7 linked regions of the Homo sapiens genome follow. The protein of the gene in region 4 interacts with the protein of the main gene of each other region in a pairwise test. Each region holds a gene or a part of one and is shown on either strand. Other genes may lie near its edges.

Region 1 (3,500 bases), on a different chromosome or scaffold from region 4:
GCAGGATCCTCACCACCAGCTGGTCCGAGCCATAGAGGTACCGCAGGGCGAAGCTGATACGGCCACAGGGTGCCCCTGTGCCTGCCTCTCCAGAGCCTGGGCCCCCACCGCTCCGCCGGCCACCAGGGCCAGTCCCCTGGTACAGCTCTGGCTTAATCTGCCCAATGAGTTTGGCTTTTTCCTCGCCTCCAGGCAGGGGTAAGGGCAGGGCAGGTGGCCGCTCCTCACTGCTGGGGTCCGGCTGGGAGGTCAGAGTCTGCTGGGTGAGGGGTCGGGGCAGGGCTGGGTACCTGTAGGGGGTTGGGGGGAGACCAAGGTGAGGTCAGTGGCTCTGATCTTCGACTGCATGCAGAGACCTGGGAGACTCCTCCCTGCCTTTCCCCCCATCCCCCAGCCAGGTGGCCACAAGTCCCCTCCTTTGCTCACTGTGTGAGCTTGAGGAAGCCACTGTGCTCTCTGAGCCTCAGATTCCCCATTGGTATCTGGGGGGCATTCCTTCTCTCCCTCCCTCCCTCCCTCCCTCCCTTCTTTCCTTCCTTCCTTCTTTCCTTTTCTTTTGAGACGAAGTTTTGCTCTTGTCACCCAGGCTGGAGTGCAAAGGCGCGATCTCGGCCCACTGCAAACTCTGCCTCCCAGGTTCAAGTGATTATCCTGCCTCAGCCTCCCGAGTAACTGGGATTACAGGCATGCACCACCATATCCGGCTAATTTTTATATTTTTAGCAGAGATGGGGTTTCACCATGTTGGTCAGGCTGGTCTTAAACTCCTGACCTCAGATGATCTGCCCGCCTCGGCCTCCCAAAGTGCTGGGATTACAGGTGTGAGCCACCACACCCAGCCTCATTCTCCCCATTTCAAAGCTAGCTCCAGCCCAGACCTGTGCATAAACCAGCTTCCAGTAACCTCTTTTGGACCTCAAGCTGGTGACCCAGGATGCTTCTCCATGGACCCCTGGCAGACCTTCTTTGAACGCTCTTCTGCCCTTCTCTTAATCTCCCCGGCTGTCTCTCCTCTCTATCCCCACTGTCCTGGTCACAGCTCAGGCCTTGTCCTCTCCTGGACTCTCAGCCTCCAGTGTCTCCCTCCAGCCCACTCCCATATGGCCCCAGAGGGTTCCTTCTACACCCAGAGCTGAGCCTGCCCCTCCCCTGCTCACAGCCCTCCCATGGCTCCTCAGTGCCCTCAGGACAAAGTCCCAGACCCTCAGGCGGGCACTCAAAGCCCCATGTGGTCTGGTGTCTGTAGTCACATCTCTGAAGTTTTCTTTTTCTTTTTTCTTTCTTTCTTTTTTTTTTTTTTTTTTGAGATGGAGTCTCACTCTGCTGCCCAGGCTGGAGTACAGTGGTGCAATCTTGGCTCCCAGGTTCAAGAGATTCTCCCGTCTCAGCCTCCCGAGTAGCTGGGATTACAGACACACACAACCATGCCCGGCTATTTTTGTTTGTTTGTTTTTGTATTTTTAGTAGAGATGGGGTTTCACCATATTGGCCAGGCTGGTCTCGAACTCCTGACCTCAAGTGATCTGCCCACTTCGGCCTCCCAAAGTGCTGGGATTACAGGCATGAGCCACTGCGCCCAGCCTGAAGTTTTCCGTTTTTCAAACTTATTCTCATGCCTTGGTGACTAAGGCTTGGTGCCCTGGCTGTCCCCTTGGTGTGGGCTGTCCTCACAATGCACTAGGATCTCGTTCTCCTCTTGTCTTTGCCTGGGCCTCTCCTTTCACCTGGAATGCCCAGGTCACAGCCCTGCCTCTTTGCCTTCCCAACTCTCCCTCAGCCTGCAGGTCTCAGCTGAGACATCTCCACCTCCAGGAAGCTCCCAGCCTTCTCCCAGTTGCGGTTCCCTGAGTCGCTTTCCTGTCTCACCAACCTGGCTACACCAGGACAGCCAGTCTGGGGGTCGCCTCCCCTGCGCTGTGAGTGACAGGAGGGCAGAGTCTGGTGTTTTCCTAACACCCCTCTCAGGCCTAGTTTATATCAGTGCTCAATATACATTTACATGTATATTGAGAAATAATGAATGAAGGAACTCCAGGTCCCACTACCAATCCTGGCTTAGGGTGAAAGGGGGTGAACTGCCTTGTGCCACAGGGGACTTGGGGATCCAACCTTATTCTCCTCTACTTTCCTGTCCTAAGTCCTGCCCCCAGTCTCCTCCCTCTGGACCCAGGAATTCAGGCCCCCAGTCCCCTACTTCTTCTGGTCCAAGGGGTCTAGACCCCACAGCCCCAACCTCCCTCAGATCCAGGAGTCTAGGGCCCCAGCCTCCTCTTTCCCTAAGATCCAGGAGTCAATACCCCGATTCCCCTCCAAATCCCGAACTCATAAGAGCTATAGATAGGAAAGAGACACAGAGGAGGAGCAGAAGTTCAGAGTGGACCCCCAACCCAGTATCCTCTCTCACCTGGTAGTGGGTGCCAGGCTTGTGACCTGCTGATGTGACTGGGCACTGGGCAAGCCCCCACCACTGGGGGGCAGCAGGAGCAACCCAGAGCCTGCTCCCCCCTCAGAGGGCAGCTCAGGGGATGTTTGGCTCGGTTTGACCCCAGCGGCCACTGCTGCTGCTGCAGCCTCTGGATACGAGTCCATGTCCAAGTAGGAGGGCTCAGGGGTGTCAGAACCCCCCAGGCTGCCTGGCTCCAGCAGCTCAGCAAAGGGTGGATGGTGGGCGGCATGGGCATGGTGGTGTGGGCCGCCCAGCAGAGGATGGCCACCCAGGCCAGCCGCCAGGTGGTGCCCGCCTCCGCCTACCAGGCCTGCCAGCCCGACACCAGGGCCTAGGTCTTTGCGCAGGGGGCCACCGCCCACTGCCGAGCCTCCCTTGTCCCGCCAGGGCACCCAGCACAACTTCCAGGACACGAAGAGAGAGACACCCAGAAGGACAATGCCACAGAATGTCACGATGACCGACAGCAGGCTCACGGAGATGTCTGGAGAGAACGAGGACAGAGGTAGGGGTCAGGATGGGGTCACAGTACATCCTCCCTCTGCTGTCCCCAAAGAGTTAACCCTTCATATTTGCCATGCAATTGTCCATGCAATTGCAAGTGCCAGGCACTTTACATGTATTACTTAATTTATGTTCTACAACTCTACAAGGTTAAGTATTGTATTTTTTTAAAGAGATGGAATCTCTGTTACTCAGGCTGGAGTGCAGTGGCATAATCACAGCTCACTGCACCCTCGAACTCTTGGGCTCAAGCAATCCTCTTACCTCAGCCTCCCAAGAAGCTGGAACTACAGGTATGTGCTATCACACCTGGCTAACTTTTAAATTTTTCTGTAGAGATGAGGTCTTGCTATGTTGCCCAGGCTGGCTCGAACTCCTGGCCTCAAGCAATCTTCCCACCTTGGCCTCCCAAAGTGCTGTGATTACAGATGTGGCCACTGTGCCCAGCCCAGTAGTTCTATATGACCATTTTAAAGATGAGGAAACTGAGACACAGAGAGATTCAGTGATTTGTTTAAGGTTTTACAAGTAATAAATGACAGTTCTGAGA
Region 2 (3,500 bases), on a different chromosome or scaffold from region 4:
TTCTAGCAGCAAAATCCATGGTTCTGTGATTCCAGAATCCCAACGAGAATCCTGACTTGAAAAATGCCTCCATTCCAAGCATTCTATCTATGATTCTAGACTCCCATGACTAAGAAATTCTAGGCCACCAAGATCTGACCGCCCCAGGAAGAAAGGGGGCCAGGTCCACTTCTGCCTACTGCTATGAGCCCAGTTAACTAATTTCCCATCTAGTTCTGGGGGAGGTGGGTCAGGCAGGAGAGGGGCTGGGTCTCTCCCATCAGAGTCAACAGGAACTGGCATGAAGCTGTCGGGAGCCCCTGGCCTGGAGAGAAGCTGGTCTAGTCCTAGGGGACAGGCCACCTCCTCCTGGCACACACAGCCACTAATGCCACAGATGTCAGGAAGTCAGCCCGCACCAGAGTGAGAGTGGGTGGTGGGGGGTTTGCATGCCTGCACCCCATCCTGCGGCTAGGAGGGAGGGAGGGCGGGCGTCAGGTCAGGGCTGGTCTCTGCTTCTCAGGTTCCAAGCCAAGCTCCACGCTTTATCTTCCTGTCTTCACCACCCACTGCTTCCTCCTTCCCGCCACAGTCCCCTCACCTCCCAGGCCAGTCCCAGCCCAGGCCAGCCGGCAGCCAGCCAGGACAAAGGCTCCCAAGCCCATCTGACAGATGGAAAAATTGTGGTCCTCAAAGAAGATAGGACCCGCCCCACTGGCTTGGCTTAGCAGCCTATTGCTCTCTGGCCACATCTCTCCGCCTTGCCCCTACCTTGCTTCCCAGAATCCTCCACAGGGCCAGTAGGTCTCCACCTGCCAGCCTGTTCACCAGCAACCCCCTACCCCAGTGTCCCCTGACAGTACTTATCCTCACCACCAGTCATCCAGTCATTCATTCATTCACTTTTGTCTGCCCAACTAGCCTATCAGCCCATCTCCCAACACATCCAGCCCATTGCCAAGGGTTATGGGGGCCTCAAAGAGGAAAGAGCAAGGCCTGTGCCCAGCAAGCATTTAAGGAGTCCCTTCTGTGTGCCAGATAGTGTGGAAGGTGCAGGAAACAGCACACAGAGGCCAACAGCCTGTCAAGGGCTCTGCCAGGACTCCATCCCACTAGGCAGTGGCAAGCCACAAACTCCCAAGGCCTCAGTTTCCTTATCTGTATATGGGGATGCTAACAACATGCATCTGTCCCAGGTATGGGCCCATGTCACCTGAGGCTACTGTGGGGATGAAAAAAAGTGAAAGTCAGAAAGCTGTTAACATGGTGCCTGCCACAGAGAGGACTTTCGTTGGGCTACCCATTACCACTGGCTTTGTTACAATCTATTACAACAATAGCAGTTGGCCGGGGGTGGTGGCTCACGCCTGTAATCCCAGCACTTCGGGAGGCCGAGGCAGGTGAATCACTTGAGGTCAGGAGTTCGAGACCAGCCTGGCCAACATGGAGAAACCCCATGTCTACTAAAAATACAAAAATTAGCCAGGCATGGTGGCGCACACCTGTAATCCCAGCTACTCGGGAGGCTGAGGCAGGAGAACTGCTTGAACCCAGGAGGTGGGGGTTGCAGTGAGTCAAGATGGCGCCATTGCACTCCAGCCTGGGTGACAGAGTGAGACTCCATCTCAAAAAAACAAAAACAAAAACAAAAACAAAATAGCAGTTAACGGGGGCCGCAACTGATTACAGCAGCAGCTAAAGTTCTTCAAACACTTATTTGGTGCCAGGCACTGGGGGTACAAGAAGTAATCACTGCCATATCCCATTGCAAGGCTGGCAAGGAGCAGGCCCAATAAGCAGCCCCAATAAGCATCTGATGAATGAGGGGATCAATGACAGGAGGCACGGCCCTGCCTGCAAGGAAGGTATAAGCCAGCATGTTTTCATGGGTGAGGGTGTCTTTCTGCACACATGTGTGTGTATGTAAGCACTTAGGTGTGTTACACGTACATATGTGTGCCTGTGTGAGAGACCTGGGGATCCAGTGATGCCAGGAGCACAGCCACTCAAGCCCACTGAGGCCCCCACCTGACACCACCCCTGCCAGTGATCACAGCAGAGCCAAGGGGACTGTGGCAAGAGCAGGGGCCAGGCCCACAGAGAAAGGCCTGGAAAGATGCTTTGCATAGTTCTGGCCATCGGATTACAGGCCCAGCCTAGGCCCCTACTTGGGTGTGTAGGGGCCGCTAGGGGTTGCCCCACAGGAACCCAGGCCCCCAGTGCCCGAACATTACGCCCGTACTGGCATGGCACACAAGTGTTCCTGCTGGCAGGCTGGGCACGTCTGAGGAGGTCAGAAAAGGTCACAGGCAAGGGAGGGAGTGCTGGGCCCAAGGGCGATGTAGGGTCTGCCAGACAGAGGAGGGCGGGTACAGGGCTCCCCGGGGGCCACCAGGCAGGCCTGGCTCTGCCCTGCTGGGGCCGGCAGCTGGAGGGGAGTAAATATAGCTGGGGCGTCCCAGCCACATTCCTGGGAGGCCAGTGAGGCCCGCCTGCCCGCTGCTCTAAGCAGAGCGCAGCAGCCAGGGCCCAGAGCCGCCACTGCCCTCTTCCCAAACAAACAGAAAAATAAATAAAACCAGCTCTCACGGCCGGCCGGCACAGCTGGTGGGGGAGGGGGCAGGAAGGGGTGGACAGTGGTTGGGGGGTGGACAGGCAGGCGGACCAGTTGCCGCGGTTTCTGTTCCACTGGGAAGGAGGAGGCCAACAAAAGAGGGAAATGGAGGAAAAGGGCAGGGAGATGGTCAGAGATGTCAGCGAAGGGGAGAGAATCCCGAAGAGATGAAGGGTGTCACAAGGAGAGGTGTGGGGAGGTAGGTCAGGAGGGATAGGGAAAGTGTCAGGGGCAGGCACAGTGGGGGACAGTTAGGAGAAGGCAGAGGCAGCCTCTGGGTCAGTAATTCAGCGGCAGGGATGCCCAGGGGGGCGGCGGGGGGTGGCAGGCAGAGACAAAGGGGGCTGTGTGGGCTGGGGTAGGGGGCCGGCTTGAAGGGCCATGAAATATTGAAGAGCTAGGCCAGTGAGTGACAAAGGTCATAGGAAGCAGGAGACTAGCCAGGGAGCAATGGGGAACCCTGAGGCGGAGGGCTGCCCCACCTCTGGCCTGTCTCTCCACCACCTCCATCACAGCCAGTCTCCCCAGCTCTCCTCCTGCGATGGAGGGACAGGCTGAGGGTGGGATGGGCCTCGGGGATTAGTGATGGCAGGGAGACCTCTGCAGTTCCCTCTTCCCTAGGGCTGATCTGGGTACAGCCGGCCTTCCAGAGCTGCCAGCCACCCTATCAAGAAAGCCAGGAGGCCTGTCAACACAGCCGCTGCCACGGCACCTCCTGGGGAAGGAGCGGGAGACATCCAGCTTCTCCTTCCCAGGAAAAATCAGCCAAGCCACCACTTTCCACAGAGACCTGTGGGGAGGGACGGCTGGGCCTCACAGCTCAGCTGAGCCAGCAGGTCACCCCCCAGCCCTCCCACGCTACCCCAGCCTGGCCCCATTACTAGCTTCACCACCTGGGTCAGTCCCC
Region 3 (3,500 bases), on a different chromosome or scaffold from region 4:
AAGATCTCTCATTATCCCCACGCTACCTCCTTGCCCCTCTCCCCCACTGCCATTCTTTTCTGTTCTCTTCTCCTTGTATGTTGACTCTTCTTCATCCCCATGCTATTGTGGGGGTTCCCATGTGGATCCCCAATCCAATTCATTTTCCCAGTGCCTCTGCCCACCTCTTGATCATTAGCCTTCCCCAATCACCATATGCCATCTATCCCACAGTCTGGGAATGCTCAACAGGGTTGGGAATAGAAGGATGAGAAGGAGTCAGGTAGGGCTCACCACTACCTTGCTGTTTTGTTAAGATAAATAAACTAGAGCTCTCAAGTCTCTCAAAATTTTCCTCATTCTGTCCCTATTCCTTCCAGCTCCAACCTACGCCAAGATTTTACCTTGTTACCATGGTAAATGTAAACCCCCAATCCAGCTCCCCACCTCTGACATTCCCTCCACCCCCAACCCATTCCAGGGTTAGTTTACTCCCTCAGAGGATCAGTGTCTCCTAATACCTTAAATCCACCACCAGTTTCTCCAAACCCCGACACTTCTGCGAGACTCCCGCAGCGGGGCAGAAGGGTCTGCCTTGCAGCATGCTTAACCATCTTGAGCCCCTAGACCCTCATCTTGGACCTCCAGCCCCTGCGACTCTCCCCAAGCTCCTGCACCCCCAGCCCATCTCCTGCCAGTCACACAAGGGAGGGGTCTGCCTCGCAATCCCAGAGACGACTCAGACAGATGGGGGCGCGTGCAGCTGGCTGGCCCCCTGCCCCGCAAGCCCCCACCTCCCACCCACCCCCATGTCCAGGGCTACCTTGCTGTCGTGGTGGATGAGCTTGAGCTCATAGTCCGGCAGGATGTCCCTGCGGCTATTCACGTCCTCCAGCGCCATCTCCACCGCGGGCTGGCAGGCCTGGCCCCCTGGCCAGCCCCCGCTCATGGGAAACAGTGCCCCGATGTACACTGCGCGCCGTTCTGAGGAGGGGTGCGGGGGGACCCGCGAGTGAGGCCGCGGGAGATGGGGGGAGTGGGAGGCCCACACCGGAGCCACCCCTGCCGCCATCACAACCAGAAGCGGCAGTGGCCACCCCACCCGGGCAAAAGGGGCCCCGGGCCCCATGGCGTGGGGGGCAGGGGTAGCTGTTGGGGAGCGTTAGGAGCTCAGGGGGGACACTTTTCCTGGGGAGGGCTGCTAAGAGGGTGCCGGGGAGGCGCCTCCATCCCTGATTTTGTGGGGAGGAGGGGGCGAGGGCCCCGGAGAAGCAGGGAAGGTTGGCTTCCTACGGCCCCCGCGGCTCTCGCCACCGTCGCCGCCACCGCGGACTCTCCTCGCGGACTGACTGACCGACGGAGGGGAGGAGGAGGAGCAGGAGGGAGATGTGGGGCTGGGAGGGGGCTCTGACGTCACGGGCGGCGCGCGGCAGCGGGGGGTGGGGGGGCGGGCGGGAGCTGGGGAGGCAGGAAGGGGGCGGGGAGGGAAGCGAGCGCCGAGGTGGGAGCGACAGTCGGAGGGGCGGGGAGGGGAGGGGGGATGCAACCTCGAGGAGGAAAGGAACGAAAGAGGAAGGGAGGGATCTCACTTAAGGGGACCCGAGGGGAGGAGAAATGGGGACGGGGCGTGCCAGGAGGGCGGGGTGGGCGGAGGGAGCCGCGGGAGGCTGAAGCACGGAGGAACCAGGGTAGGAAGGGAAGGATGCGAGTGGGACGGGAGAGAAACGGGGCTGGCGCCTGAGGTCTGAAGTGGGAGTATGAGTCGATACAGTGAAGCACTGAGGATGTGGGGGAGAGGAAACGGTTTTGGAGGGAACGAGTTGGGTACGGAAGGGAGGCTGGTTTGAGGGAGTGGTGGGGTCGTGGAAGGGAGCCTGGGGCTGGGTAGACAGAAGCCTAAGAAAGGGAGACAGGACATGGAATTGAGAAAAGACGAGGGAAGGGGTACACGGAAGGAAAAGATGTGGGGAAGAGCGCGAGAGGCCTGGCCAGGGTTGGGATGGGTGGGACAGGCTGAGAAAGTCCATTAGGTGAAATCCTAGGAGGCAGCAGGCTGGAAAAGGTTCCAGCGAAGGTCGCAAGGAACCCCACAGGGGAAAACGTGGTGGGAGCTCAGGGTCTCCCAGCACCCTGCCGCCCTCTGCTGGGCTCTGCCTGACACCGGCGAGGCTCAGTCTGGGAGGAGGTGGAGCCCAGGGAAGTGTAGCCAAGCAGGGACAAGGAGAGACCGCAGCCTCGTGGAAAACCGGGACTGGAGGCAGGAAACAGGTAGGGAGGGAAGGGGGTGGCCGCAAACTGGGGTGGGTTGGGGAAGGTGCGAAAGGACGACGCCCCGTAGCCTAAGGGCAGAATTTCAGGGGGGTGGAGGGTGCAGAGTGAAGGGGAGGGCATTGCAGTGCGCGCGGTAAGGGTTTCTCATCTCACCTGAGTGTGGCGTTCGATTCACTGGCAGCAGGAAAGACGGGGATCAGAGAAGAGTTACCACTGGCGCCCAGCTTCCCTGGCCTGATCCCCAGCCCCCTCCCACACCTGTCCATGCTGAAGACCGGGGAGAGCAGAAGCCTGCGTTTCTGAGGGGAGGGTGCCTGGGGATAAGAACAAGGTGGGTCTGGGGGTAAGGGGGTCAGGACTTATTTTCTTCTTCGATTTTTCATAGGACAACAGAATTTGAGACGGGAATGCCAATAGCTAAGTTTGGGGCAGATCTTGGTTCTGTGGTGCCTGAATATTACAAAATTGGGAGTCTTTAAGAAAAAAAATTACACATACAATTGGCTTTAAGCAATTGCTGTTAAAATCTTATTTCTGCAATTTTTACAAAAGCCTGTTACCATATGAACACATATCCATCGAGCCCTCTATATTATTAGAGCACAGGAAGAGGGCCCTGTAGGTGAGGAACCTTGAAGTCTAAGTTTCAGTAGTGTCATAAGTCCACCCCTGGATGGGACTCTCAATTTCCAGAATAAAATGGTAAACTAGAAGCAGAATAACTGAGTTATGTGAGGAAAGTAAAGCCCAAGGATCTTGAAAGAATCTACCAGGGTAGAGGAAGTATGAGGCATACAAATGGGATGACTGCATCCCAGGAGAGAAGATGGCAGAGAGTTCGGGTGCCTAGAAAAGGGAGAGTTTGTAAAATTACGTGGCAAAAAAAAAAAAAAAAAAGTAGACAGACACAACACTGATTCCCTTAGGGAATAATGGAGGTTGTCTAGGAAGTACAGAAAAGGACCTGTCTTCTTCCCACCCCATCCCTGAGTTGTTCTTCATCTTCTGATAATGCTGCCTCCAATTTTAAGTCTTTTACCCTAATATGTTTCCACCCCCAGAGCTCCCCTTCTCAATTTTTCTTAGTAGAATGTTTGATTTATTTCTGAGTCTTTACAATAAATCAATTATATAAGGAATGGTGAGGGATGAATTCTAGAAGAGGGTGATGCATGGAAATTTCTAAGTTTAGAGAAAGGGAAAATTGGAGTATTTAAACCTGAAGAAGGTGAGAGAGGTGAGATTCATAA
Region 4 (3,500 bases):
CTCCCACCCTTTAGAGTGCATCAGAATCCCTGGAGGGGATGGGCAGATGATTGGCCCTGTCCTCAGGGTTCCTGATCCAGTAGATCGGGGGGTGAGCTTGAGAATTTGCATTTGTAGCCAGCTCCCTGGTGATGCTGCTGCTGGTTCAGGGACACACTATGGGAACCACTGACCTCAGCTGACTTTCATCAGCTCTGATGCCTCCTTTTGTCCACAGAGACCCCCAACAGTGGCCAGTCAAGGAGACATGTGGAGTGTGGGCTTGGGCCCAACACTCCTTGAGTGCTGATTAAAAAAGAGGGCCACCTAATGCGGCCTCTCTTCCAATGACAACACATAATGTCATAGGTTCTTTATTTGCCGTCCTCTTTCTGCCCTCTCTTTATATGCTTTACTACTGTGGGCCCAGCCACCCCAGGAGGGCTAATGAAAATTTAAGAGGGTGAATATGTTTAGGGTATTGACTGGTGAGACCTTGGGAGACAGCTGAAGAGGAAGGAATCTACCCCATTCGTTGCCATTATTGAAACTAGATTTCTTGAGAGGAGGAATTATATGTTAGTAGCACTATATTTTGCACGTTAGAGATGTCTAAAAATCTGAAGTGTGCTCTGCCTAACTCGTCATGGAGTCTTGGCTCTGAAAATGTTGTAAGGTGATGCAAAAACCTCCGAAGAGAGATTTCATTCCTTGTCTTTTGACTGAAGGTAGTGTGTTGACAACAAAAAGCAAGGGTAAAGCTTTTCCATGAGCAGTGAGTCCTGTACCCTTCCTCTTAGTCATGTGATGCTGCTTAGTCATATGATTACTGCATTCCAGACCTGCTCTCATAGACACAAGGTTCGTGTAGGGACTGAGATATCATTTTTGGTTAAATGTGATTCATTTTTTTTATAGAGAAATGATGGCTCCCTCAGTCATAAAGCAATGGCCCCATAGAGTGGTGAGGTCCAGTCTGATTTGTTGACTGAGCCTGAAGGGCATCGCTTCTCTCATAGCCATTAGAAGTGCTCTGTGTTGCAGAGACTTTGAAATACATACACTCCAACCCCAGTTCCTAGCTCTCTCAGCTTCTTTATGCTTCTAGTGACAAAGAATTCAGAGCTGTGTAAATGCAGAGAAGACAGATCACATTACCTCTGCCCCGCTCTGACTACTGAAAATGCTTTCTTATATTGAACCAAAATATGTCACTTTGTAGCTTCCACTGCTGGGTCCCACTTTTATCCCTTAGAGCCCAGCAGAACAATTATAATCCTTCCTTCATCTTCAAATATCAAGATACCTGAAAACAACTATCATGCCTCCTCCCCCACATATTCTCCAGGGAAAACACTCCTAATTCTTTCATCTACTCTAATATTACATGGTTTGGACTCAGGTACTGTCCTGCCTATTCCCTTCTGCACATAGATTGTTGGATTATATCCCTTTTAAATTGAAATGATTGAATGTGGCAGTGAAATAAATCCTGTCCTCAAAAACATTCTCTTCATTAAACAGAAGTTCCACTATGAGACATTATTTACTTTGGAATGGCAAGATATTTGAAGAGGTCAAGAGTTTTCTAATCCAGTATTACTGCCCCATGGAAGGATTAACATGCATTACTGGTATTTACTGTTTCATTTTGATAATGTTTTCCCCTGCATGAATGTATGTGGCTGTGATATCTGAGTTAGGGAAATGGAAACGATGTAAGAGAACCGGAAGTATTATGGATCACCACTCTGTTTCTTCTGGTTCTTCCTCTCATAGTCTTCTCAGATATTTCTCCCTGACATTTCTCTTTTCTAGGTTGTAAGTTTGGCATTAAAGCTGTTCTTTTGCTTCTAGTGAAAAGGTATGGAACTTAGTTTCCAAGTTTTCTCCTTGAGGGAAGCAGAGGTTCTCAAACACTGCTTACAAATTACATGGTCTATTTTCAGGAAAACAATGACTATTAGTAGACTAATTCAACCTAAACTTACAGCATGTATCTAGCCTATGGACATTTAGGGGATTTAAAACAAAATGCAAATTGCTAGTCAACAGCAAGTGCCAGATATTAGAAGACAGCATCTAATTCTTCAGCATTCTTAGACACAATGTGGGTGTAATTGTCAAGATTAGAACATTGCTTTTGAGCATGGGTTGTGAAGTTGGCTTTTCTCCTTTGTGTCTACTTTAACAGATCAGCTAACAGAAATCAAACAATATGTATTTGCATCTCTTTTGTTAAGAATCATCTACACCTACTCCAAAAGTCAACATATCCCAACTAATTTATTTTAAAAAAATACACCACTAAAGAATGATTCAAGGGCACCAGGAAATATTGTCTCTACCAGGAATCTTTTCACCACTGGGACAAATCATTTCCTCTGCCTTACTCTATCCTGATTCACATTAGCTGTATTTCTTTGCTGCCAGACATTTATATCGGGCATGCATACCAAAGACTCCAGTGTGTTCACCCTACCAGTTTCCCTCCTCCTGGATATAGAGCTGAACTACAATTTGCAGCTGCTCTTGCAGTTAGGTATGACCATAGAATATGAATAGGAGTGATATACATTACTTCTAGGCCCGGATCATTAAAATCTTCTACATAATCATCTACTCTCCCTCTTTCCTTGTCTGCTAGTTGGATATCACCACTCAGCAGATCTTAGAAGCCATGTACTAAAGATGACAAAGTGTCCCTCAGCCTGGGTCCTTGTACGGCATCAACCAATTAGATTTATGTGAAAGAAATCTTCTATTTTGTTAAATTAGTGAGATTTAGATATTTTCTGTTTCAAGAACTTTCTAATTAATACAGTATACACAGGCTCATCAAGAACTGAAGTTAATGCCACATTGCAATAAATGAATAAAAACATCTGCTATTTTTAAAGTGCCTACTTTGTGCTGGACACTGCACAAAGAACTTTTTTTTTTTTTTTGGAGACAGAGTCTCCCTCTCACCCAGGCTGGAGTGCAGTGGTGTGATCTCAGCTCACTGCAACATCTGCCTCCTGGGTTCAAGCAATTCTTGTGCCTCAGCCTCCTGAGTAGCTGGGACTACAGGCATGTGCCTCCACACCTGGCTGATTTTTGTATTTTTAGTAGAGATGGGGTTTTGCCACTTTGGCCAGGCTGGTCTCAAGTCATCTCCTGGCCTCAAGGGATCCACCTGACTCGGCCTCCTAAAGTGCTGGGATTATAGGTGTAAGCCACCGCTCCTGGCCTGTGCTAAGAACTTTACTTACATTATCACATGAATCCTCATAACATCTCTGAGGTATATGTTGTTATTATTACTCTTATTGTTATTATTTTATGATAGGGAAAGCAAGGCATAAAGTTGATTAAGGTCACATAGTTAGCATAGTGGATTATATTATTGCCTCCAATTATTCTCTTCCCTCTCTGAAAGATTAGATGTCTCTACCTGTTGCTGCACGGCTTGCAGTGCTTCACTGTGGGAGAAATATACATCTCCTTCCCATTGATCATTGACACTGATGTGACATGTG
Region 5 (3,500 bases), on a different chromosome or scaffold from region 4:
AAAGATCTCTGTGAGAATGGGGTATTAAAATGAATGCTCTAAACAGGTAGGAAAATCATACTTCTCTCTCTGATCAAAGTAGACAGCATCTAGCATAAGCCCCTATGGTCCATGGTGGAAAGGACAGGTCATCTGTTTTAAGAATAGTTTAAATACACTGTTTTTCCTTTTCCAGCAGTGTTTGCAAAAAATTTTCATGTCAAAGCAGTAATGAAGACTTCCGTGTTGCTGTCTTGGGAGATTCCAGAGAATTATAACTCCGCCATGCCTTTCAAAGTAAGTTGTTTTCTAATTTGTAAGAAATCACAGATAAAAGTAGAGGGGACAGTTTATCTGGGTAAGTTATTTGCACAGCAAGCAGACCACTTTGTTTTGGCCACGTGTCCTTGCTATTTTCATTTGTGACTTTCACATGGGAGACAGTTTGGTGCTTTGTAAGTGTGTCCTTTACACTCTGAAGAAGGAGCAGGAGCTTAAATCCAGGGCTGGCATCACTTGTAGGTTACCTACTACTTTGAACTTGAACTTTTTACATCTAAGCTAGTGCTTTTGTTTTTCAGCCAGAGAATGAAATTTACATGGTTTCTACCTATTTATATTATAATACCCTGGGAGTTTCTGAATTTGTTTGTTGGCCTGTATTCTTGGCACATTTTAAACTCTGGCTTGCCATTAAGAGATGTTAGCAAGTACATATTTATGAAATAAGAAATAGAGAAACATTTTTGAAAGTAAAAGTATATTTAGAAAGAGGAACCAAAACCTTTAGAAAATAGGCAATATTCATAATACGTTGAAACGTAGAGCTTTTCTGCACATATTCCATTAAGATCACATACAACTGACAGGTCTAATATTGATAAGTTATTTTCTATATATATATATGTATATATCTATCTTTGTGTATTTTTGATAGACTTGGAAACATTTTATCATTACACAGTAGGAAATGACAGGAAAATTGATGTGATCTCCAGAATTATGACTACTCATGGACTTAGAAATCACCTAAAATTAGAATTGACTATATATACATTTTCCAAAAGCTAGTGCACATTGGTTTAGAAAATATATTTTGCCTCTCTGATAACCAGATTTTTTTTTTATTGGTTTTATCTCTTTAGATTCTTTATGATGATGGGAAAATGGTAGAAGAAGTGGATGGCCGAGCCACACAGAAGTTAATTGTCAACCTGAAGCCTGAGAAATCATATTCATTTGTGCTGACAAATCGTGGAAACAGTGCTGGTGGGCTGCAGCACAGGGTCACGGCAAAGACTGCACCAGATGTATTACGTACCAAGCCTGCCTTCATTGGGAAGACCAACTTGGATGGCATGATTACTGTGCAACTGCCTGAAGTACCTGCAAATGAGAATATAAAGTAAGTTGATTGAAGGCTTAGGGCTGAAGGAAAGAATTATAGGTAAATAGGAACATTATATCTCAAAATTATAGAGGTCGTAAAAGAAGATACTGCTTAATGTAGTGAAAGATTCTTCTGCTCAGACTCCCAGTTTTGCTATCCGAGTTCTTTTACAACGTGTCCTAGTATTCATTGTAACACAGATTTTCATTAATTTAACAGTGAGTTTTTAATCTGTATTGCAGGGACAGTGTTATTTAGGAGAAACAGAAAAACATATAGAACATGGTTCTTACTACAAAGCTTTTTGTTTGTTTGTTTGTTTGTTTGTTTTTGTTTTTGTTTTTGTTTTTGTTTTGAGACGGAGTCTCGCCCTGTCACCCAGGCTGGAGTGCAGTGGCGCGATCTCGGCTCACTGCAACCTCCACCTCCCGGGTTCAAGAGATTCCCTTGCCTCAGCGTCACAAGTAGCTGGGATTGCCTCAGCCTCCTGAGTAGCTGGGATTACAGGCACCTGTCGCCATGTCTGGCTAATTTTTTGTATTTTTAGTAGAGACCGGGTTTCACCGTGTTAGCCTGGATGGTCTCAATCTCCTGACCTTGTGATCCACCTACCTCAGCCTCCCAAAGTGCTAGGATTATAGGCATGAGCCACCGCGCCCGGCTACTACAAAGCATTTTATGTCATAGTTTATGGAATAAGGTGAATAGGTGATTAACTCTAATATTTGGCAAAATATTTTTGTAATTATGAAGAAGTCTTACAAAGTACTAAAAGGTTGAAAAAAAGGGGGGGAAATTAGATAATGGTATATGACACTGATGTATTAAAAGTAGGAAAAATTCCAAAAAGTTAAAGTTAAAAATGACATTGGAAAAAATATAAACATTAGAAAATTCAAGTTTTCTGGTTTGAATGTAGCACAGCATAGAGGCCAACAGGCCTGAAGTGGAAAATTAAATCCAGTCAATTAAATAAGTTTGTCCAAGGACATATAGCTAGTTGGTTGAATAACTAATAGAAGAAAAAAGTATTTTCACCAAAATATATGAACTACAAGTACTGTGGTAGACTCCGGGGAATAAAAAAAGATGGATTCCTGACTTCAAAGACCTTACCATAGAGTGAGAGAGATACAGAGAAACAGACAGATGTAGTAAGCGTTAATGATAGAATTATGCTTTATCTTAAGAGCAGCTAATTCAGAATGGGTCAATAAAGTTTCTGAACTTAAATCTTAAGGGATAAATAGGAGGCATACAAATAATAAAAGAGAGACTATATGCAAAGGGAGTGGTAAGTGCATAGGCCCATTACTAAAGGCACCCAGTGGTGCCATACGGCTGGATCCCAGAGCGCCTGGCCACAAGTGGCAAGAGAAGGAAGAAGGAGGCATACAAGAGCCAAGGGTATACCCAGAAGTGAAAACTATATCCTCTAGACAATGGCAACCCATTACAGCTCTTTACACAGGAGAGTGGCATGATAACATTTCAATAATACATAATAAAATTCCATTTTAGGAAATATTTGTTGAGCATCTATTGTGCTACCTGTTTGGAATAAGAATAAATCCTTTCTCATTTCTTCTATCTCACACCCTCAAGTTTAGGTGAAACTTGCTATGCCAGGTTTGAAGGTCAAGCAGAGAGGCATTTATTCATAGTTCATGCATTGTTGGAATTTGGATAGATGGGAGCGCCATAGAGATAGTGGTAGAGAAAATTATTGGGAGGTGGTCACATAGTTGACTCTAGGCAAATAACAAGATTCTAAAGGAAGATGATGATGATGGAAGTAGGATGCAGAGGTAGACATGAGTTACACTAGAGTAGTAGTACAGCATACATTATTGGTAGCTGCTTTAATGATGAGATCAAGAGAGTAAAATATGGCTCTGAGTTCTGAGCTTGGATGACAATGAATGATGGTGTCATCCTAAAGGATAAAAAAATTCAGAAGTAAATGAGTTTAACGTTGTGTGTATTAATATGAAATATCAGTGAAATACCTAGTTAGAAGTGTGGGCTTAGAGAAGTTATTAAGATTAAAGATGGCCAGGCATGGTGGCTCATGCCTGTAATCCCAGCACTTTGGGAGGCCGAGGCGGGCAGATCACAAGGTCAGGAGTTC
Region 6 (2,951 bases), on a different chromosome or scaffold from region 4:
CCGTAATATCTCTAAGATATTCCTGTATGCAAAATTACCATTATCTCTCAGGGGTAACTGCAAATAATTTGCTTCCTCCAAATAAATACATAATCTTCATAATATATAAATTTATTTGGATATTTGTATTTGTGTATACTGCTGATCCTTGAACAACATGGGTTTGAATTGTGTGGTCCACTTTTATGTGAATTTTTTTAACCATGTGCAGATCAAAAATACATGTGAATCATGCAGTATATGGAGGGCCCACTTTTTGTATATGTGGGTTCAACAGTGTTGACTGTGGTACTTGAGTATGCACAGATTTTGGTATATGTGGGTGGTCCTGGAACCAACCCCCACATAGACCATATGCTGTTACGTATACATATGTGAAGTACAATCAGATGCTCTACCCCGGCATCGAGTGGCTTGTTTCTCACTAAGATTGGTTAATGTTTAAAGGAAAGAAAGAAAATGCATGGTAAATTTCTTCTAGAGCAACAAGGCAGTTTTCATCAAGTTTGAGAAATGTAGTTTTATTAATAGAAGGGCATGTCTTACCATACACACTGTCCCCAGATAAATAAAATCCCAACATCTTTGAAAGCACACAAACACACAGTTTTACAGGGTACAATACAAAGTGAACTTTGATGATGTTCTTACTTGCATTTACTAAAAATCTGAGAAAGACTGTAATCAGTCTCTAAATAATTATCTTGCGTAAAGAGAAAAGTAGAGCACAATATATATATATCACAAACCAAATCACACTCTCTGTAACATTACAACATGGAATTTACTTAATCAAAAATAAAAGCAAACTGGCTGAAGAAGGCTGTATCATTTTTTTCTCAATATTACGCTAATTTCTATTTTTGGCATGAATTATTAACCTTTTCCATTAGTAGGCAAATGTGCTCTGCAAATTCTCGGATGGCACCACGGCCACCATTACATTTGCAAATGTATCCAACAGCCTTCTGGGCAGTAGAACAGGCATCAGCAGGAGCGCCACTTAGGCCCACTCTCTTCAAGCACTCTTCATCAGACACTTCATTTCCTATCAAGTAAAATAAATACTGAGCAAACATTTAAAGAGACAAAGAATATTCTAGCTAAATAATGCAGACAGCAACCAACAGGTAACTCTGGCAACTTCAGTAAGACCTAGGGGCACTGCATATAAGAATACTAAAGATTAGATGGAACAAAAATATTTTACAGTATAATTGAGGTCCAGGGTTTTCCCTAAGCAATCAAAAATAAACTCTTATGAGCTAGAGAAGAAGAATGGAGCATAATTGCTACCTGCCATGCATATTACAAATGTTAGAAATTTTATATATGAATTCTAAGTAAGTTATTTAAATTTTTCATTAAGCAAAATTTCAAACATATGCGAGAACCCCAATTTTATATTGAAAAATTATCAGAATTTAAAATCACTTAGTAATATTGTTTTCTATGCACTGCCCCCTAGTTTATTTGGGGAAAGGGAGAAGAAGGAATTCCCAGACATAATATTTTATCCAAAAACTCTTCAATATTTATCTCTGATAAATATAATTTTTTATCTGACAGAATATCATTAAACCCACAAAATCAGTAATAGTTCCTTAATATCCTCTAATAACCTAGTATATGTTGAGATACCCCCAGCTGTCTCAAAATTGTCCTTTTATAGCTGACTTATTTGAATCAGGAATGAAATAAGGTTAACATATGGTCTTTTGTTTATATATATATAATCTCTTAAATCTCTTTTAATCTGTAATGGTTCTGATTGGTATGCCATTTATTAATAGTTGCTGAAAAATTACCATTTTTAAAGAATAAAAATAGATACTAAATCATACTGACATAACGATATCCTTTTCCTCCCTCTCTGTTAACCCCTTTTTTGGAATAGGATGCATTTCAGAAGCTCCCAGTATCTTTAATTCACCATTCTGAGTAAAACTATTACTATACTTTAGACCACATACAATAGTACAATCTTGGTTGAAGAGAGTTTCTTTTACATTTGTTCTATGCTTATCTACTGAAATTTTCTCATTTATTATTAAATGTGTTGAAATTTGAATCGTTTTCACTAAAATAAAAAAAGTTAGTATTTGCATAATCCAGCCTTTAAGCTCTATTTACTAAATTTTACTTATAAAAGTATTGATTTTTTTAAGAAATATATTTTTATACACTTATGTCACCCATATAAAACATTGGTGAGTGAGTTATTATTTTTTTTTTTTGTAGACATGGGGCCTCACTATGTTTCACAGGCTGGTCTAAAACTCCTGAGCTCCAGGGATCTGCCTGCCTCCGCTTCCCAAAGTGGTGGGATTGTAGGCATGAGCCATCATGCCTGGCCTGCTGTGAGTTTTAAATAAAAATGTAAATGCTCTTCTCCATTTTCTTACCTCTCCTTTTAAAGTGTGTGTGTGTGTGTTTTTTTTTTAATGTCATATAAGTAATACGTATTCGTGGTAGAAATATTTTTTTAAAAAATAGAAGCAAAAAAGTCACAATCATCCTAATTATCACTATTTGTAGATAATCACTACATTTTGACACATATAATTCTAGAGTTTTACCTATATAAATGATACACTTATTACTATCTGTAGGCACTATGTTAAGCATTTTATATTATCTTTGTTTTTCTTTCTAATGGCTTTATAAAATTTGGTTTGTGTTTATATTCTAAGTAGAAAACTAAGGTATACAGAAGCTTGCTTAACATCCCAAAGAAAGATAATAAGTATAGTTGGAATTTGTTATACATTCCACTAAAATTTTCTTCTAATAAAAATTGGATCTGTCTTTAACAAACATTCTGCAGCATTTATGTCCATTAAATCTTCATGTGTGGTTTAAGGGTTATTCCTGAAGTCTCTAGATCACATGCTCCCAAAGTTTTTCCTGTGCTTCTTATTTTGAGGCTCATATTACCCTTGTAAATACTG
Region 7 (3,500 bases), on a different chromosome or scaffold from region 4:
TACAGCCTAGGTATGTAGTAGGCTGTGCCATCTACGTTTGTGTGAGTACATGCTATGATGTCCACACAATGATTAAATTACCTAAGGACACATTTCTCAGAACATATCTCCATTGTTAAGCAACGCAGGACTATATAACTTTATGTACTGATGTTAATTGCAGACTTCTGCTAATAATTTTTCTTTTCTGTTATAAACCTAGGCATTTCGTCCTTTCTCTCTCTTTTTTTTTTTTTTTTTTTTTTTTGAGAAAGAGTCTTTGCTCTGTCACCCAGGCTGGAGTGCAGTGGCACGATCTTGGCTCATTGCAACCTCCGCCTCCCGGGTTCAAGAAATTCTCGTGCCTCAGCCTCCCAAGTAGCTGAGATTACAGGCATGTGCCACCACACCTGGCTGATTTTTGTATTTTTAGTAGAGATGGGGGGCGTTTTGCCATGTTGGCCAGGCTGGTCTCGAACTTCTGACCTCAAGTGATCCACCCATCTCGGCCTCTCAAAGTGCTGGGATTACAGACGTGAGCCACCATGCCCGGCCTCTTTCTCTTAATAGATGTTTTTTTAAACATAAATCTAATATTACTTCAGATATGCTGTTTTCTGATTAGTGCAATAACACATGCTTATTGTGCCATACTATGTGGCCAATTTGTTACTGTACAAATAATTCTTCCAAAACATATAAAATGATATGCAGGAATTCTATTTTATTTTCTATTAGAAAGCTTTAAGGAAAAATTAACTTGAGTTTTAAAAACCATAGTTTGAGGTGCTAGCATATAGCTGGCTTTTCCATTTCTCCATCCTTTATTTGGAAATTAATTCGGAAAAATAATCCTGTTAATCTAGAAGAGAAAACAGCAGCCTGGCATTGTATGGTAATTAGAACTCATTTCCGTGAACAGGGATGTTTATGTTTCTCTATTTCAAGGGGGATTCTCAAACCAGGCTCAACCCATTCCTATGAGTTTGATGCAAAGCTGGATGTTGGAACAATTGAGAAAGTCAAGTTTCTTTGGAATAACAATGTGATAAATCCAACCCTCCCCAAAGTGGGTGCCACCAAGATCACTGTGCAAAAGGGAGAAGAGAAGACAGTGTATGTATCTTTGCTGGCTGGTGCCTAAAAATGTTTGCAGAGATTCATGTTATAATGAAAACCCACCCTAGAAAGTTACGTGTAGTTAAGCAAGAAAAGCCAAGAAAATTTACCCATCTGTGGCCCCTTCTCCCCAAACAAGCAACTGACAAACAGCATAAAATGTTTCTGTTGGGTGCACCTTATTGGGTGTTCTCAGCACTGCCTGTGGGAATACAGAAGATAAGGCTGCACTTTCAAGGTAAAATGAGAAAATACAAGAAAGAGAACAAGAAATCCTTTCTGAAGGGTACAAGTTTATAAGTATGGGCTAGTGAATAGCTATACTTGAAAGAGGAGAAGACCAATTACATTTCAGGATAATAAAACGGAAAATAAATCGGTTTTAGGAAAAGATCGAAAATTTTACATAGGACAAGAATGCACTAGGATTGCAATACTTGTGAGATCCTGACCTGTGGTCTCCCTGGCTTTGGGCCTGAATAAGCACAGGGCCGTGGGTAGGAAAAAGGGACGGCTGGAGGAAAGTTGGAGTGGTGACCTGAGAGGGCAGAGCGACTGTCTCTCAAACCTCAGACCCCAAGTCTGGCTAGTAGAACATGTGGCTTTGTGGGAAGGAGATCCTGGGCTCTCAGCCACCGATGTTCTTGAAGTTTGGGGTTAGGTGGAGTCACCGAGTTCAGGTCCCAGAGATTGTCACTCCCCCAGGTGGGGAGGGTGGGGTGGCAGAGTAGAATGGGGGCTGACTCCACATCTGGGTCTCCTCGAACTGGATGACTTAGTGAGGTTCTCCTTATCCCCACGAGGCAAGGAGAACAAAGAGGTTGGCCCTGCCAGGTGGTGGGTGGAACCAGGAGGCCTCATAAGCTAGAGCATAGTACAGAGGAGGCTGGGCCGGGCTGGTCGGGAGCCCTGTGCAAGCTGGAGGTGCAACCAAATCCTTTCCTCCCTGACCCCATCAGAGGATACTCAGCCTCTAAATTCAGCTCCCCAAGGCCCCATTAGCAAGCATCCCATGGCCTGGATCCTGGGACTGTGTGGTTAAAAACATGTCAGGTGGTGGCATCATTGGAATCTTAAAAATTAGAGGTGTTCCCAGGAGATGACTTGCTCACAGGTAAGGCATACAAGTCCAAATCAGCCAGGGCATTGCATCTTCCAGGTTTTCTGAGGAAAGGCTGAGGCTTTCTGAACTTTCTGCAAATGGAACAGAACATACTTAAGGCTGCACCTGAGGTCCTGTGCCCATCAGCTGTCACCTGCATTCCAGTGGCTGAGTGCAGCTCCCCTCGCTGTCTGCTCCAGAAAGACTCTTTCTTAAGAGCAGCTGGATATAAGACATCAGGTTTTCTAAACAGAGGAAAGTCAAAACAGCTTCAAATCTCTCAAACTAGTTTGGGAAGTAAAAACACTGAATTAGTTGAATTACTCAAACATTTTCCTGTTATGAAAATGGCCAGTAACATTTAATAATAATAATAATAATAATAATAATGAAGAAGCTAAAGAAAATCAAGATTTTGGTCCAAGCTCTTCTCAGAATCCCCTCATATTTTTTAGTAACCTCATTGGGGTTTCAATTCCTACTAAGGAATCTGCCGACTAGGATTCCCTCCAATGACACAGTATCCAAAGAGAAAGGCAGCCCTCCCCCTCTTTATTTCTCCGTCCCCCTCTCTTTATTAAGTACCTTTGGTAAATGTACCCTTGCAAATGACTTTATTCAGTACCTATTGTATGGCCTGGCAAACAGTAAGGGATGCAAACACTGAGCCTACACTCAAGGAGCTTACAGTTCAGCTGTTGAGAAAAATCAGACTTATGGTTCACAGGGAAGGTCAAAAGACCAAATAAAGAACTCCCAGGAGAGGCTCAGAAAGACAGTGGCCAAGGAGGAAAGCAGAGGGCCGCGGGGAGGCTGTGATGGAAGGAAGGGCAGCTCTCAGGATGAGGCAGGGAGTAGGAGGGAGGAAGGGCACAGGGGCAGGGCAACAGGTCCAAGTGCATGAGGGGCGACAGGGCCCAAGTGCAGGGAATATGATCGGAGGCCTCCGATGCCAAGTTAGGGCTTCTTGGCAGAAAAAATGAAACACAGAAGAGAAAGTGGGAAGGGGCCAAGGAACACCAGTGAGGAAATGGGGCAAAGCTTCCGAGCTCACAGGTGGTGAGGCCTGAGAGAAGTCCGTGGTTCTTGAACAACCACAAAAATAACTGCTTACATCTGCATTGTTTTTTGTTAATTGTAAGACTTTTTACATTTACCATCATGGGATGTTACGTTCTTATCATGGAATTCTCAACAGTCGTGGGAGAATGACTGAGATGGAATCTCGCTCTGTTGCCCAGGCTAGAGTACAGTGGCATGATCTCAGCTCCACTGCAACCTCCACCTCCTGGGTTCAAGA

The links.
Region 1: the proteins of KCNJ6 (region 4) and SYT3 interact in binary tests that used the Homo sapiens proteins (3 or more experiments, as listed by UniProt).
Region 2: the proteins of KCNJ6 (region 4) and CXXC5 interact in a two-hybrid assay, tested with the Homo sapiens proteins (one large-scale study listed by BioGRID and IntAct).
Region 3: the proteins of KCNJ6 (region 4) and GABBR1 come close enough for resonance energy transfer, tested with the Homo sapiens proteins (one study listed by BioGRID).
Region 5: the proteins of KCNJ6 (region 4) and PTPRD interact in a two-hybrid assay, tested with the Homo sapiens proteins (one large-scale study listed by BioGRID and IntAct).
Region 6: the proteins of KCNJ6 (region 4) and CMAS interact in a two-hybrid assay, tested with the Homo sapiens proteins (one large-scale study listed by BioGRID and IntAct).
Region 7: the proteins of KCNJ6 (region 4) and PNLIPRP1 interact in binary tests that used the Homo sapiens proteins (3 or more experiments, as listed by UniProt).

What each region holds. Positions count from the first base shown.
Region 1 is NC_000019.10:50,629,882-50,633,381, forward strand, and holds part of SYT3 (synaptotagmin-3), read right to left. Parts: intron 2,931-3,500; coding exon 2,405-2,930; intron 291-2,404; coding exon 1-290. UniProt on the Homo sapiens protein: Ca(2+) sensor involved in Ca(2+)-dependent exocytosis of secretory vesicles through Ca(2+) and phospholipid binding to the C2 domain.
Region 2 is NC_000005.10:139,654,849-139,658,348, reverse strand, and holds part of CXXC5 (CXXC-type zinc finger protein 5), read right to left. Parts: intron 1-3,500. UniProt on the Homo sapiens protein: May indirectly participate in activation of the NF-kappa-B and MAPK pathways. Acts as a mediator of BMP4-mediated modulation of canonical Wnt signaling activity in neural stem cells.
Region 3 is NC_000006.12:29,626,684-29,630,183, forward strand, and holds part of GABBR1 (gamma-aminobutyric acid type B receptor subunit 1 isoform a precursor), read right to left. Parts: intron 2,425-3,500; coding exon 2,404-2,424; intron 1,331-2,403; exon of another isoform or gene 1,109-1,330; coding exon of another isoform or gene 964-1,108; coding exon 803-963; intron 1-802.
Region 4 is NC_000021.9:37,906,458-37,909,957, forward strand, and holds part of KCNJ6 (G protein-activated inward rectifier potassium channel 2), read right to left. Parts: intron 1-3,500. UniProt on the Homo sapiens protein: Inward rectifier potassium channels are characterized by a greater tendency to allow potassium to flow into the cell rather than out of it.
Region 5 is NC_000009.12:8,482,003-8,485,502, reverse strand, and holds part of PTPRD (receptor-type tyrosine-protein phosphatase delta isoform 1 precursor), read left to right. Parts: intron 1-175; coding exon of another isoform or gene 176-178; coding exon 179-276; intron 277-1,124; coding exon 1,125-1,384; intron 1,385-3,500.
Region 6 is NC_000012.12:22,063,218-22,066,168, reverse strand, and holds the end of CMAS (N-acylneuraminate cytidylyltransferase), read right to left. Parts: intron 2,397-2,951; exon of another isoform or gene 2,242-2,396; intron 1,049-2,241; coding exon 858-1,048; 3' UTR 501-857; downstream 1-500. UniProt on the Homo sapiens protein: Catalyzes the activation of N-acetylneuraminic acid (NeuNAc) to cytidine 5'-monophosphate N-acetylneuraminic acid (CMP-NeuNAc), a substrate required for the addition of sialic acid.
Region 7 is NC_000010.11:116,604,459-116,607,958, forward strand, and holds part of PNLIPRP1 (inactive pancreatic lipase-related protein 1 precursor), read left to right. Parts: intron 1-683; exon of another isoform or gene 684-927; coding exon 928-1,095; exon of another isoform or gene 1,096-2,445; intron 2,446-3,500. UniProt on the Homo sapiens protein: May function as inhibitor of dietary triglyceride digestion. Lacks detectable lipase activity towards triglycerides, diglycerides, phosphatidylcholine, galactolipids or cholesterol esters (in vitro).